Regions from separate parts of the Homo sapiens genome. Here region 2 is linked to region 1. A link means that fine-mapping ties the variant in region 1 to the expression of a gene that starts in the linked region. Tissue or cell type: whole blood. Region 1 holds a variant in brackets; the other region holds the start of a gene. All regions are shown on one strand. Distances are between the middles of the regions.

Region 1 (8,000 bases):
AATACCTCTTCACTCCCTGTGTTGAGAGGCTCCACCACCCTGGTGTGGCTAACAGCTTGCATTGATCACTTCCAAATGCAAGCCATACTTCTCTTCTGGCAGAACTTAGGTCACATCCTTGTCCTCTAGCTCCAGAGTAGCCTAGGGATGTCGTAGAGGAATTTACCTAACTCCATGAGTGTGACCAGAATGCTGGACAACACAACACAACAGGTGAATATTCACATTTGTTTTATGATTCATTGTCTAAAAAATCATATTTGTTTGTGCTTATGCTATTAAAACAGTCTCCTCTATTTACACTTTAAATAAAAAGTTTTGTTTTTTATATATAGGCATTTAATACATTTGGAATTTACATGTACTAATTATATTAAGTATACTATACCCAAATATTAATTGTATAAATATTAACATTTATATAATTAATTATATTTTATTTATATATTTTATATATCACATAAATATTATATATGTATTATATAATAATTACATAATCAACATAATTATATTAGATTATATTGATATAACCATTAATATTTATATTAATATTATTATATTAATTGGTATAATAAAATAATTATGCATATTATTTATATTGTACCCAAATATGTAGGTGTGTGCATGTCTACCTTATATTAATATATGAGTCCCATATTTGGGGCTCAATAATTTCATAAGCTTCATTGGCTTGTATGTCTATGCCTGGTCCAATGCTGTACTGCTTTAGGTGCTGTGATAGAAATATCTCATACATCAAATCCTACAACCCTCTTTTTCTTCTAAAAATTTCCTTGGTCTTTCTTGATTACTCTTCCATATACATTTTTGGATCAGCTTGTCAAGTTCCATAAACAAGCCTGTTGGAAATGTTATGGAAATGGCATTAAATAATAAATCGGAGAGAATTAACATAATTAACATATTTATACTCTCTCCACTTATTTGGGTTTTTTCTATGACTTTCAGTAGTGTTTTGTAATTTTTGCCATAAAACCTCTGCCCATTTTTTTCTAGTTTAATTCCAAAATACGTATAGCATCTTTTGTTTGTTTGTTGGCTTGTTCTTTCTTTTTTTGCTATTGTGAAGAGTTATTTTTCTTGTTTATTTGTTAATCGGTTATACTCTTTGCTTACAGGAGCATTGTTGATTTTATATGGTTGTGTATCAATCTTGCTACATTTTTAGACTTTCAGTTTTTATAGTCTTAAACTTAGATTATATATATACTATATATTTGAATGTTCCCCAGAACATCCAAATCTGTGCACATCTCAAAAATTTTGTTCATTCCTGTCTAGAAGTCAGACCTATTAAATTTCTTTGTCTTGTTTATTGCTTGTACTATGATCTCCTGCACAATATTGCATAAGTCACGTAAGGGTGGGCATTTGACATACTTCTAAAGTCCTGACATTTAATTTTGGTAGATATGTTTTATTAAAGAAATTATCTTGTATTCCTAATTTTTCATAACTTGTTTATTTAAAAATCAAATTAAAGAATAAATATAGAAAAGATTTTCTTCTGCAGGATTCACAATGGGATTTTTTTTAAAAACACTGTATTTTTCTTTGTATTGTCTGGCTTTGAATACCAGAACTTATCATTTCTTTCCTTTTATTTGAAAAGACAATTGAGTAGTTTGTTATTAGTAGTAGTATTGAGATAACACTGTTGTGTCTATGCACAAAGAGGGCTCAGCATATAGAAAATAATCAACATTCTCTGAATGAGTCTTAAATTACCTTTTCAGATTTCTAACTTAAATTTTCTTTAAAACCGCCCAAAACAGTATTTCTATGGTCTACTTTTTATATCCTTGTACAAACCCACTTTTGATGACCCCGTTCCCATTTTCCATTTTAGTAAATTATACTTTCTCTATGTCTATGTTAGTATTTTTCTTTCTTTTCTTTGTTGCCTCTTCAGTGTTAGTATTATGGGTAAAACCCCAAATCTCTGTTACTGAATGTATTTTCATTATTTTAAAATATTAATTTCTTTTTCTTTAACTGGCTGACTTTTTCCTGTTTTTAATTTAGCCCAACCTCAGCGCTTGCCTCAGCTTCAGACTTCAGCCCAGGTGCCAAGTGGTGAGGAAATAGGCAAGATAAAGAACGGCCACACAGGTCTGAGCAATGGAAATGGAATTCACCACGGGGCCAAACACGGATCCGCAGATAATCGCAAACTTTCAGCACCTGTTTCTCAAAAAATGCATAGAAAAATTCAGTCCAGCTTGTCTGTAAACAGCGATATCAGTAAGAAGAGCAAAGTAAATGCTGTCTTTTCCCAAAAGACAGGCTCTTCACCTGAAGGTAAGTTTGAGATATATGTAGATTTTATTTGACCAGATGTAAAATAATATTTCCTGGTAATTATTTGATCAAGCATATATAATTGAAGAATCTTGCTTATCCTTCAGACAAACAGGAATTTTGGTAAAATGCAGATTAACTTTCCCAAAGGAAAGCACAAGATAGAAAAGGAAGCAGTGGCAGCTGACATCCTGCTTTTAGATAATCGTCTTCTAGAGTGAATAGTCATTACTTTAAATATAACTGCTATACTTCTTTTTTTAATGCCACATTTAAAAATATAAATACAACATTTTGATGGCATACATGAGTGTGTGTGTGTATTTTTATCCCTCCCTGATGCAATATGTTATTCTATAGTTCAGAGATAAGATTACCTGCTTGTATTTTTGTCTTGCAAATCGGTTCTTAAATAGACAAAGCTAAAATGAGAGAAAGATTAGGTAATTTTCATGCTCTTGCCAGGGAATAGGCCAGGTGATTTCTGTTGCTTGACTGACCAGCATCTTCCAGCCGCCACGTTGGCCAGCACCTGCAACCATCTCCACTCCCATCCCATTTCAGCCTCACTGTGGTCTGGTCTTCACCTCCTCCTTTAGAGACACTTGGCTGTGTTCTCTGTCCCCTGGAGAACTAGTTATTACCTCTTCAGTTCTATCTCATCCTGCCCTTGGCTGGGTTAAAAGCAGGTTAAATACTATGAACCTGAGAAAGTTCTTTATTAATCAAATTGCACATGGTGACAATTAAAACAGACTCCCTTTACATGATTCATTGTATTATATTTCAAAAATAAAAATCTCCCATATTTAAGGATCCAAATTTCTTTCCATGTATCCATGGTTCTCTGGTTTTCCTCCTTTCCCCTTTTAGCAGTTATTGGATGTCTAAAGTCTTGAATCTGTTATATGTATCTGATATACATATATTTCTCCTTATTCCCCTTTCCTTTCTATTTTGCTATGAAATCTTAAGTAAGAGAAATTTTGTGGAATGCCTCTGTGAAGTTGGTCATGCTTATTCATAGAGACAAATTGAGTTGTAAATAGGAAATTGTATTGAGAATTACCAGTAATGAGTGGGAGAAAGGATATTGCATTTTGGCTACAGGTGTCTCAAACTCAACTGAGATAAAGTGTTAGGTTGATCAAATGATATGATAATAAATGGTCTGCATAGTTCCAGGTCAGTGACACTACTTTCCAAACTAATTAGATTGAAAGGGACTTGATTGACACTTTAAAATGAGTTTGACATGTAAGCTGCATGGTCATCTCTGAAGCATAGGTAGGCTGTTAACTAAACTGGCTCTCCAAGGAGTTGGGAAAGCAATGCAATTTTCTTTAGAGGATCTTCGCTTCTAGGTGATCGGGTGAAATAATTGAATGCAATTGAAATGTACTTGTTTTATACATTTGAATTCACTTATTACGTCCCTAACCTCTTATTTTCCATTTGATATTTACTTATTTTTGTATTAAAGAATGGTAACATTCGCATATCAGTCCTAACTTGAAATAGCTTATGGAATGTTTATAAATTTTTTTATTATTGCTTGCCTTTAATACCATGTCTGAATTTATTTGTAATGTAGGAATGCAGCTTCATAAGTAACATACGAAG[G/A]AGGAAGAAAATCACCGGTATATGAATGAGATACAGTTTTACTCTTCCTCTTTCTCTCCCTTCTCCTTTATTCTCCCCCTTCCCTCCCTCTTTTACTTTTTCTTTCTCTTCTCTCATGCTCACATTCACACTTATGGCCTACCACAGAGCTCTGGATAAGGGAAGTCCCTTGTAATCTGTGTAATCTGCTTTTATCACAAAATATGTTCCAGATTGGGTTGGAGACATGAGGAGCATAAAATACAAATTTAAATGTATAAACACATTTTGCAAAGTCTTATCCATATCTTCATTGTAAGACTATAGAATTTAGACAATTGTAGGTTTGTTTTATTGTGATTGCTTGAATCTAGATTAAAATTTGATTGTCCATATTTTTCTCAAAGTTCGATATCTTCATGATTTGTTAGTATTTAAGGTTGTGCCCTAAAATTTTGTGTTTCTTCTGACTTTCAGTTTTGAAGTTATGTTTATTCTCTGGCAATGTACTGTAATAAAAACCAAAACCAAAACAAAACAAAAAATCCGTTGAACTGGTAGATGGCAAATTAAAAGGAAAAACATTCTCAATTCTGCCACCAGCTTGCTGGGGTACTTGAGTTTCTATGGGCCTGCTTTTTCTGTGGAATGAAGGGTTTGGATTAGATAATTTTAAAAATTAAGTTCGGTTCCAAGATTCTGTGAGTCTCTTTTTACAGCACCTGCTTGACTCTCAGGATAGATCTCTTGCTCTATAGAATATGTGATCTCTTGTTGAGGAAACACCTAAAACCTGATGTGCAGAATGGGGCAGGGGCAGAAACAGTTGTGGTGAACAGAAATAGCACCTGAATTTCAGGAGGCCCATATGTCAGAACAGTAGGCCTTGAATAGGCAGCATGATTTATTGTGCAAATAAAAATGGATGGAAATGATTTTTTTATAAAGCAATAAGAATGGGGAGATTTAGTGGCTAGGTGTCTTAGTCTATTTGTGCTGCTATAACAAAATACCTGAGACTAAAGTTTGGTCAGGTTGGCTCATATCTATAATCCCAGCAGTTTGAGAGGGCCACTGGGGAGGATCGCTTGAGACCAGGAGTTCAAGACCAGCCTGGGCTACATAGCAAGATCTCATCTCTACAAAAAAGAAAAAAAAAAATCTACCTGGGCACAGTGGCATGCACCTGTAGTCTTAACTACTCAGGAGGCTGAGGTGGGAGGACCATCTGAGCCCAGGAGTTTGAGGTTACAGTGAGCTATGATTGTGCCACTATATTCCAGCCTGGGTGACAGAGTGAGACCCTGTCTCTAAAATAAATAAATAAATAAAACACCTGAGACTGGGTATTTGATAAAGATCAGAAGTTTATTTTCTCTCAGTTCTGGAGGCTGGGAAGAGCAAGATCAAGGTGCTGGCAGGTTAGGTTGTCTGGAGATGACCATTTTCTGCTTCTAAGATGATGCCTTGTTGCTGCATCCTTGGAAAGGGAGGAGCGTGTGTTCTCACATGGCGGAAAGCAGAAGCGCAAGAGATCAAAAACTGCATGAAGCCTCTTTTGTAATGGCCTTAATCTCATTAATTAGGGAGAAGCCCTCATGGCCAAATCACCTCTTGAAGGACTTACCTCTTAATATCATCACATTGTCCATGACATTTCAACATCTGAGTTTTGTAGAGGTGACATTCAAACCATAGTACAAGGCTTTTCTCAGTTTTATGACTGTTCTGCTTCACATTTTTGTTAAATCATCATCTTCTATGCCTGTTCTTCCAAAGGCAAATGAGCAAACAAGTAGCAAAATAATCTTAACTAAAATTCTCAAAGCAGCTAATCATGCCCACTTTGACAATGTGTTGTATGTCTGGGTACATGGTGCTTGTGGTTGTGATTTTTGTGCCACATATAAATTTTATCAACAACTGGAATAACATTTTTTTTGGTTCAGATAATGGAATAAAATATTTACAAATTTTCTAGTGTTTGATTAAGAACTCTAAGGGCGTCTTTTCTAACCAGGATAGCAAAAACACTGCTAAGACATGATCCATTGCTTATACAGAGGTAGGGTTTGAACCAGCCATAATTGAGTCTGTGGGTTGGCAAGATGTTTTAACATGTCTTTAACTGTGAGTGTCTGAAGAACTGAGAACAAAGAAGCCTGCACTTCATCAGGTACTTTTTTTTTTTTTTTTTTTTTTGAGGTCGTGTCTCACTCTGTTGCCCAGGCTGGAGTGCGATGGTGCGATCTCGGCTCAATGCAACCTCTGCCACCCGAATTCAAGCGATTCGCCTGCCTCAGCCTCCTGAGTAGCTGGAATTACAGGCGCCCACCACCACGCCTGGCTAATTTTTTTTGTATTTTTAGTAGAGATGGGGTTTCACCACGTTGGCCAGGCTGGTCTTGAACTCCTGACCTCAGGTGATCCGCCCACCTCGGCATCCCCATCAGGTACTTTTTAAGCGATGTTGATTCATATAATTAGAGTGCCTTCTATGTGCTACTTGCTTCTCTCACATGAACTCATTTAGTCCTCCCAACAACGCTGCAATTCTATGAATTATATGAAATTATCTAATTATAAATGAGGAAACCGAGACACAGAGAAGTTAAAGGAAGCAACCAAAGGCAACAGGTGCATGGTAAAATTGAGACTCAAACTCAGACATTCTGGTTCCACAATCCATGTTCCTAACCTCTGTGCTATTTTGTGTGACTAAAGTTTTCTGAAAAAAAGGTAATTTATCAGACATTTCAACATGATATAGGATGTTAATGGTGTTACAGCTGTGGGCCAAGCAGGGATCTTCTTCTTAGTATACATTTGCCTCTTAAAGCCCTTCTTACCACAGTTTTAAAAACAACTCTCACACCTGTGCTCTCTGTTTTCCTTTTCCTACTAGACTGTGAATTCCTGAAAAGGCTGGACTGAATCTAAGTCAATTTTTTTTTTATTGTACAGTGGTGCCCAACATAAAAAAGTTTCTCATGAGTTAACACGTGATACAATGCTCTATTCCAAATCATTTTATCCTACCCTTCCTTGAAACCAGCCCTGGAAAATAAAATGTGTGCTCATATTCACCAAAAAAAATGTTCTTTTAAAAAGTTCCATTTTTGCAATGGAGGAAAAAAAAACCATGTGGCAAAAAAATTGCACATTTTATTTAAAGGTTATTAAATTTGTAGATTTCTACTTGTTTTGTATAATTAAATATTTTCATACATACTTTAATTTTCTGATTGCATCACCCAGGTGGAGAGTTTTAAGACTAAATGTTTAAGATTCTTGACCTTTGAAATAATTATAGTATAATTTAGTATCATATAATGTTCAAATTGCCAAGGGTTTTCATTAGACTCAAAGACACTTTTCTTATAGGAATGGTAAATCTTAGTATGTTTTACATGTGCCAGTTACATCTATATATTTTTGTAAAAATTAAGTTCTAACAAAATGCTTTTAAAGAAATTTTATACTTTTTAGGAATTTTTGCATTAATTTACACCCCATACTTGATATTCTGCATTTAGTATGCATAGAGAAATACATATCCAGTCCTAGTATATCATTGAACATAAATGCTGAACAAGACAGTGAAGAGCGTTATGTAGATGGAAGTAACTACAATCATCTCATTTTTATTTTTAATCACATAGAAGCAGTGTGGTATAGTAATTAGAGCACAGACTCTGAAACTAGCCTGGTTGGGATCAAATATTGGCTTTGCTACTCACCAGTGATGTGTCTTTGGGCAGGTTACTTAGCCTCTTTTTGCATCAGCGTCTCATCTCTAAAATGGTGATATTATTAGTACCTACTTCATAGGATTGTTATGAAGAAGACTTGAATTGGTACTGCTTAGTGCTTAGAATACAGACTGGCTCAGATGAAGTGTTCGATATGTGTTAGCTGCTGTTATGATCATTAGTATTAAGGTTCATAGAGGGGTCAGGAATGTTAGCTTCTTGGAAAAGTCAATGCCTGGATGGGGACCTGAAAGACAAGACAAAGATAGTTTAGGGAGTTGAGAATAGAGGGAGGCATTCAAGGCCAAAGGATTTTGTTTTTCT
Region 2 (8,179 bases), 60 kb before region 1:
TAAAGGAATTTTTGAACATGTTTGAAAGAGTTTTTCCTGGAATGTAAAAAGATTGACCCGACCCCCTAAAAACAGAATATAGCACTCACATAACTAACTGACTCTTTCCTTAATGACTCAGGCTCATTAGGAACATTGACTATTTCACGAAGCTGAATTCACAAAGGCGTTGTTACAACATGTTTATTTTCCTGTATCTTCCTTGTCTGTCAGCTGTCATCTCTCCTGCTGTCAGTTTTTCTGACCTAATAGCTCCCTTAGCTAATCCCTTCTCCTCAATCTTCCTGCGCCCTAAGTTTTCTTCTTCTAAAACAATGTGAGCTGAAACAGTAGAAAATAAAGTTTGATTAGAGGTGTGTATTCACAAAAGAACAAGTAGGATTTGAGAAGGATTATGTCTTTTGTGTTGGCAGTTTCTGAACATCATGAAGGTTATTTTAGGTATTTAGTATGTTGCTGTTATTTCCTGGTTTCTAGGTCATTGGGTTTGGGGATTGCCAAAGTGCTGCTTCTAACATAAATTAGGTAAATATATTTTCCAGAAAAACTATCCTTGATATAATCTGGGAATGACTCCTTAAAGGATTCAAAGCATTTAAAAAGTTTTTTTTCTAAACAAAGAAACAAAGTATTTGAATGTGAACCTTTAATGTATGTTTACTTATAAATCATACCCAAGTACTTTTGTAAGAATGTGCAATACACTGTATAAAAACATACTCAAAAGTAGAAATTAAAAATTATAACATAAAAACATATATAAATGCTCACTCTGATATTTTCTGCCCACATTTCAGTAGATTGTCTTATGCATCCCTTGGAATGCCCTTACAATTACACACCCCAGTTGTAGACCTCTGGTTTAGATATCTGTGTATGGGGATTAATTTTGACTTTACTAGGCAAATAAGCCTCTGCCCAAGTGAAAACTAATTTAGCTGCTTTTCAAGACATCAAATCAAATTTCTTTATCTCCAGAGCCTAATATGTGGCCTAGCATATAGTAGATGCACAATAAATGTTTGATGAATGTTTAATGAATGAATGATGAAGATTAAGTAGTCCATAAGGATGCTTTATAAACTCTTTTAATTAGTTCTTTATTTTATTTGCTTAGCTCATGTCAGACCTCTTTCACAATGTGTTCACATATTATTATATCATCATTAGTGTACACATCACTAGGCAGGAATGGTTGTAAGGCACACAAGAATTTCAAAGGCAAGGGGCTTTGATCCGGGGCTAGGACATTGAGTTCCACCGGCAGGCTGATACCCCTAAAGAATTTCCACCTACGCAGATTAAGATAGCTTAAGACATGGCAAAATCTAGCTTAATAAAGACAACCCAGGGGGATCTGGGGTAGCAAGTGGGACACTGACAGTAGTAGTACTTAAACAGTAGTGGTTCTCCAAGCCAAGCTGATAATGGTATTATGTCACTGGGAAGGATGTGGAGAAAAGGAGAGAGGCCAGTAAGGATACACGTGGATTGAGTTCCAAGGCACAGCTGCGTCTCAGGGCTTCTGCTTTTACTCTGCACACTTGCCTTGGACATTCTTATAACCTGCTAGTCAGCAAAGTACCATGTATATGCTTATAATCCAGTCCCATGTCCAGCAGCCTATGCAGGACAGTTCCAATTAGCTGTCTCACACATGCTGCATCATTTGCATGATTAGCTCAGCAGCTTTCCCCAAAACTGGCCTCTCCTGAATGTTTTCATCTCTGTAGGTCATACCACCACCATCAACCTGGATGCAGAAAGCTGGTAGTTGCTCTCGATTCCTCTAGCTTCCTCATCCTTTATCCCTATCTACTTGGCTCCATTCCTTCTGCCAGCCATCAGCCCTGGCCTCCAAATTGGACTCCCTAGATCCACTCTCAGTCCTCCAAACAATTTTACGCATAATACCAGAGTGGCTTTTATAAACAGTAATTTAGAAAATATGTCTCCCCCTGCTATAGTCTGAATGTTTGTAGTCCCCCAACATTCATATGTTGAATCTTAATCACCAAGGTGATGGTATTAAAAGGTGGAGCCTTGGGAAACACTTGTATGTCTTTTTTTTTTTTTTTTTTTTTTTAAGAGACAGGGTCTTGCTCTGTTGCCGAAGCTGGAGTGCAGTGGCCCACATAGCTCACAGTAACCTCCAACTCTTGGGATTAAGTGATCCTCCCGCTTCAGCCTCTAGAGTGGCTGGCTACAGGAGTATGCCACTATGCCCTGCTAATTTTTTAAAAACAATTTTGTAGAGATGGGGTCTTTCTATGTTGCCCAGGCTGGTCCTAGAGTGCTGGCCTCAAAAGATCTCCCTGCCTCAGTGTGAGCCACCACACCTGGCCTCTTGTGTCTTTTTGTAAGGACATTAATTCCATTCATGAGGGCTCCACTCTTATGACCTAACTACCTCCCAAAGGCCCCACTTACTAACACCATGACATTAGGGGCTAAGATTTTAGCATATGAATTTTGGGGAAACACAAACTTTCAGTTCGTGACACTGAGTGAAAGAATGAGAGATGAACGTACTGGAGTGCTTGTCAGTAAACAAATGAAGCAATCAGAACAAGCAAGTGCAGCCAGGGATGTGGGAAATGGGAGGCGTGAGGGACACTCAGGAGCCCACACTTAACTTCTGGCATATCAGACACCAGGTTAATGGCATTAAGACCACTTCTAGGTCCTCCAGAAGGAAGACCTGAGTTACCTAGGGATGCAGGATAGCCTGGAAGAGAGACAGACCTGAGTTCTAATCCTGAAGGTACAATCCTGGCAATTTACTTATAGGGCCGATGGAAGAATTCATTGAGATCATTTGCGTCAGGTGCATGGCATGACAAACTGGTATTTTGATATGACCCTTTTGATACAGTCATTATGCCATGCTCAGCTTTACCCATCAAGATGCTTCCGTGTATAATAGTAATAATAGTTGATACTTTTGAACACCTTTTCCCTTGAGAGTCTTCCAAATTTTATAGGAAAACTACCTTACTTAGTGCTCAAAAAGAAACTCTATGAAGAATTTCATTCTCATATTATGAGGCAACCAAGGTATAGAGTGGGTGACTAACTGTCCAAAGTCACACAGCTGAATGAGGTACAGTATTTGACAACCTTGGTGATGCTACCCTACAGCTTCTCATTTGCTCCTAATGTTATTTTAATTTTATGTCTTCTCCATTAAAGATTTTAAAATTTAATTTAAGGAATATCTATGGAATCACCCACCACGTGTGCAATATTAAGGACTGTGTGAAATTAAATGAACAAATACTTATCATTGATTATGACTTTCTAGAAGAAAGCTGTAACTTCTTTATATTATTGGACTTTAACATCTTTGTGAGAGAATTTTAAAAATAGGGCAAGGAATGATACAGGGATAAAACAGAATTTTCCAGAGCAGGTAAACAACTCCTTTGAGTGCAGATGATGCTGCAGTGAACTCTGAGACGTCCTAAATGTTTGTTCTCTAGTGGTGATGAAGTCATCTTCAGAACTGATCTGCTTCCATCAGACAAATTCCAAACAGTCCAGGCTCCTAGATAAGTTTTCAAGAGAGGTAATGCACTTGATTTCATACCATTTCTGAAATCTCCAAGTGAAAAAAAAATGTTAGTTATGTGTAATGGGGCAAAATGTCATTTGTCTTTTTGGGGAGAATGGTCTGAATGACTGTCATCAGCAACTTTGAAGGCTGTTTTTTTTTTTTTTTTTTTTTTTTTAAATGGAGTCTTGCTCTTGTCGCCCAGGCTGGAGTGCAATGGCACAATTTCTTCTCACTGCAACCTTTGCCTCCTGTGTTCAAGCGATTCTCCTGCTTCAGCCTCCCAGTAGCTAGAATTACTGGCGCCCGCCACAATGCTCAGCTAATATTTGTATTTTTAGTAGAGATTGGGTTTCACCATGTTGGCCAGGCTGGTCTCGAACTCTTGACCTCAGGTGATCCACCTGCCTCGGCCTCCCAAAGTGCTGGGATTACAGGCGTGAGCCACCGCTCCCGGCCGAAGGCTGGCTTTTTTACCATCATTGAAATCAAGTTAGAATGCACTGTCTCTTCATAGGTAACAAGTAAATCTTTGTAATCAATTGGAATAAATTCCAATGAGCTTTTTGAAAAAATGAAATTTCTGGGATATTATTAATGATGCACATAGAAAGACAGTGAATCCAATGCACATTTTCTTCAGTTTTGATAACGTTACTGTGATTCCTCGCTTGTCCAAAAGAATCGAAGAATGAGTTCGTTCTAGCTTTCTACAAATGAATTCTGCATTTCATTCACAATGAAATAAAAGAGCAAAAGTTATCTGAGTATACCACTAAAGTACTATATATCTGTAAATTACTTTACACTTGCTATCCTCGGCTCATCAGATTAAGCTACAATCAGAATGTCTCATTTATAAACGGAAAGTTGATCAGCTTTTTACTTCCGACCACAAGTTTATCTCCCCTCAGATACCACTGATCCAGTGAGGCATTTAGCTTGCCATAGGCCAGGCTGGGGCCAGTACCACGGCATCCGCAAGGGTGCCAACCTTGTTTGCCTGGATGCCTCCAGCAGATTCGCGCAAACTGCAACTGGTTTTACATCAGGAATACTGTTTGACCAAAGAGTAATTTAGGAGCCAGAGATGAAGTGAGTAAACGTTCAACCGAGGGGTCAAGGTTTCAAACGCACACGTTCTCTATCCCACCAGGAAAGTTCGATACTGTAACAGTGTTTTCGTTTTTCCTTGTCCACCCTAAAGGTTTTCGTCAGGATATTCCCAAAGCCTCCGTCGGTCTGGGGGCAGGAGTAGGGAGAAGGGATGAGGTGACTTTTTGGGCGGGGTGGGGGGAACGTCTGGGCAGCCAGGGACCTGCCCATTCACTCCCCTTTCCCAGCCCCGGGAGGGCGCAGCGCCCGGGTGGGGAGCCCGAGCCAGCCCAGGCCGGCTCTGGCCTCCTGACCCAGACAGCGCAGGGCGCGAGGGATCGCGCGGCCGAGCCCGGGTCGCGCCGCTCCCAGCATCGGGGCCGCTAGCCAAGAGTTCGAGGCCTTCCCGATCCGGATGTGATGAAAAAGAGCAACAGAGGGAGAAGTGTTTCAGGATTGTAGGAGTGGAAGAGGGGAAAGAGAGGCAGAGAGGGGGAAGGCCCCCTCGCAGGGGAGCCGGCTGGAGTGAGCTGGCTGGAAAGAGGGGGCGGAGTGCGCGGAGTCAGAGCCGCCACCGCTGCCGCAGTTGCCGCCACTGCGGCGTCTGGGCTGAGCCGGAGGGAGGCGGGAGGACGCGCAGGGGCGGCCGCCGCCGTCGTCAGGCCACCGGGGCGAAAATGCGGCCGCTGCCGGAGGCTCGCTAACTTTCCGGGGCGGAAGAGGAGGAGGAGGAGGAGGAAGGGGCTTGGAGCGACTACGGGGGGATGCGGAGGTAGGTAGTGGTCTCCGGGCGGGGAAGAGGAGGGGTTTGATCCCCATCCCCGGGGTTCTCCCAAACCCGATCTCTCTTTCCAGCCCCTCCCCGCTGGGTCCACCTCGGACCCCTGGGACCCCGCCGCTGTCAACTTGCGCTGTAACAGTTTTCTTCGCAAGTTTCAAATCAAAACTTCCCCGGGGTGGAGTTTGAGGGAGGGAAGTGGAGGGGGAGGGAACGTCCCGCAGGGGTGGTGTGCTCTTCTCTAAAAACATTTTTTTTTTTAATTTTGTATATTTTTCCGCCAGAAGCAGTCAGTTCCCTGCACCCAGCACCTCACAGCCCTTCCTCCGTGCGCCCTGCCGGGCGGCGAGCTAGGCGGCAGCGGCGCGGCGCGGGCTCGGCGGAGCGGCCCATGTCCGGCGCGGGCGAAGCCCTCGCTCCCGGGCCCGTGGGGCCGCAGCGCGTGGCCGAGGCGGGCGGCGGCCAGCTGGGCTCCACAGCCCAGGGTGAGTGCGCGCTTGCAAGTGGCAAGCTTCTTTGTCATTGTTGCATTTTTCAGTTTGCTCACAAGTGCACAGATAGGGGTGGGGGGAGTGCTGTGAGGAGGGGCTCCCACTCGTAGTTGAGAACTTTTGCACAGTTCGCGTTACTCAGGCAAGTTCTTCAGGATCCTTGCCCTAGATCAACAACCGGGTAAGAGGGCGGGAACCGTTGGTCCCTCCACTCCCCCTTCCTTTGGTTGCGAAGAAACAGGATGACAGGATTGCTTCTTTCTTAAGCATATGCATGTTTGGGCCTAAGACTCAATGTGTAGGTTCTGAAGCGCTTCTCCTCTAGGTCTCTTCAGCAGATCCAGGACTGCCGCAGCTCTCTGAACAAGCGTGCACTTACTCCATTTCATCTTTCTGTTTCTTGTTGGCTCCTCTACCACCCGGTTGATAATTCAGGTTTCTGTGACCAGTAGCTTTGGAATGGCTTATGCTTGTTTTCAATAACTGGTTTGTTTTGAAATAAATAAACAAGGTTTATAAGAAACACTTTCCAAGAATGAATTAGCTTCTTTGTGTTCTTCCAAAGTGTAAACACACACAGCCTATAAAATACTCTTGTGTCTGGGAAACTTCCATAACAAGCTTCTAAACGAGTTGAACCTTTCTTCTCTTGAAGGCAATATACTTTAGGTTTCCATTGGTGACAGAGAGGAAGGTTCTTAAACTTCTAATGCATTTTACTCTAAGGATGGTTTTGAGCTAAAGAATTCTGTCACTGATATATCAGAACTAAGTAATTTTTCCAGTGCTCAAAAACCTAGCATATACCCCTGATTTTAGGCATAAACTGATAGCTTTATTTCCCACTTGTACTAATGTAGTGAATCTTAGGGATTTTTTTTAAGGCAGCAAAAATTGGAGAAGGAGTTAACTTTCAAGCTGCAATAGGTAAAAGCAGAAAACATCTTGGTTAAATTAAAATGTTCTGGCACCCAGGGCTGTTAAACTGAATTACATTTATCATTATTTTTTGCCTCTAAATGAGTGACTCAGCTTTCTAAACAGAAAATAAAAATGATTAACTGCAGAAAATCAGAGAACTAGAATGATAAACATATGTTTTCTGAGAAGCAGCCCGTGTTCTCCACCTTGTATTGTCAGCACAATCATTTTCCTGTCATTAGGCATGCCCTTAGTAGTCATATCGACTCATTGATGGGCTGTTTATGCTCACACTTGAGCTGCTAATCACAATTGTTAAACCAGGCTTATGTCAAAAATCAACATCAAACACCCAAGGAAAATAATTTGACCTGGAAATAGCTAATATCTACAATATCCAACTTTAATAGTTTGCATTTCTAAAATCATCTGGGAGAATGTGCAGTGGTACTTAATGTACCTGTGCATTAGGATGCTGGATGGTGTCATGTGATCTGAACTTAAGAACCCGAAAATCTAGAGTGGCCTGAAGTACATTTGTTGGGTACAACACACGTTATCAGTGTAGAAACTCTTGGGTTATATTTTACCTGAAAATTGCCTTAGCTTTAGCAACATAGTTATACATTTTTATTATTATTAGTTTAACTTTGATCCAAAACTTTCTTTAAATAGGGATCAGTTTAATTTAAATATAAAGTTGATTTTTAAAAAGAGAGTCTGCAGAATCTTGTTAAAATATGATGTCTTAAACAGGCAGATGTCATAAGGTGTATTTAAAGAAAGAAATTCTTGGAGCAAATGGTTAGAGGAAAGCTTCAAGGGAAGCTTGGTTAGGTTGGTTTTATTGATAAAGACATTTGTGAAGAAGCTTTGCTCGAAGGCCACTCTACTCTTAAGCCTTTTCTCAAGTTCTTTTATCCTCTTGCTTCTGTCCTTGGATTCTTTATCATCCTTTCTGAAGAATAGCTTAATAATTCTACGGTAGGATATGGCTGCTTAGTTAACAGAAACCTAATTTTTAAATTCTTTATATTAAAGTCAGTAAGAAAAGTGGAATTTTAAATACAAATTAACAGAAAAAAATATTATTTCAGGAACATGAAGGATATGATCAAGTCTACCCCTGCAAAGTTAAATATATATATATAGGTAAATAATGACATTACAAGCTCTACATTTATTACTATACTATATTGTGATGAGCTATCCATACTGTTAACCAAAGGCATGAAACATTACAGTTGAAAGTAATTTTGGGGATTCTCTAATCTGAACTCCACATCAAGTCTAAAATTCAATTCTACATCCTTTTAGGTGTTTTGTTAAAAACCTGTAGTG

What was found. PIP is the estimated chance that this variant, and not a neighbour inherited with it, causes the effect.
Region 2: it holds the start of MDFIC, and the variant in region 1 is fine-mapped to the expression of MDFIC in whole blood (TOPMed, PIP 0.98).

The regions. Positions count from the first base shown.
Region 1 is chr7:114,977,460-114,985,459 of GRCh38, forward strand. MDFIC (MyoD family inhibitor domain containing) reads left to right here. Exons shown (of 5, transcript NM_001166345.3): 4 at 2,047-2,322. Among named protein-coding and RNA genes, the nearest start is that of MDFIC, 59 kb to the left of the region's middle. The variant G/A (reference allele first, on the strand shown) is at 3,946.
Region 2 is chr7:114,917,217-114,925,395 of GRCh38, forward strand. It overlaps MDFIC (MyoD family inhibitor domain containing), which reads left to right and starts at 4,878. Exons shown (of 5, transcript NM_001166345.3): 1 at 4,878-5,420; 2 at 5,711-5,911. The coding sequence starts at 5,818. RefSeq lists silencers at 4,818-4,957, 5,288-5,337, 5,348-5,527, 5,758-5,897.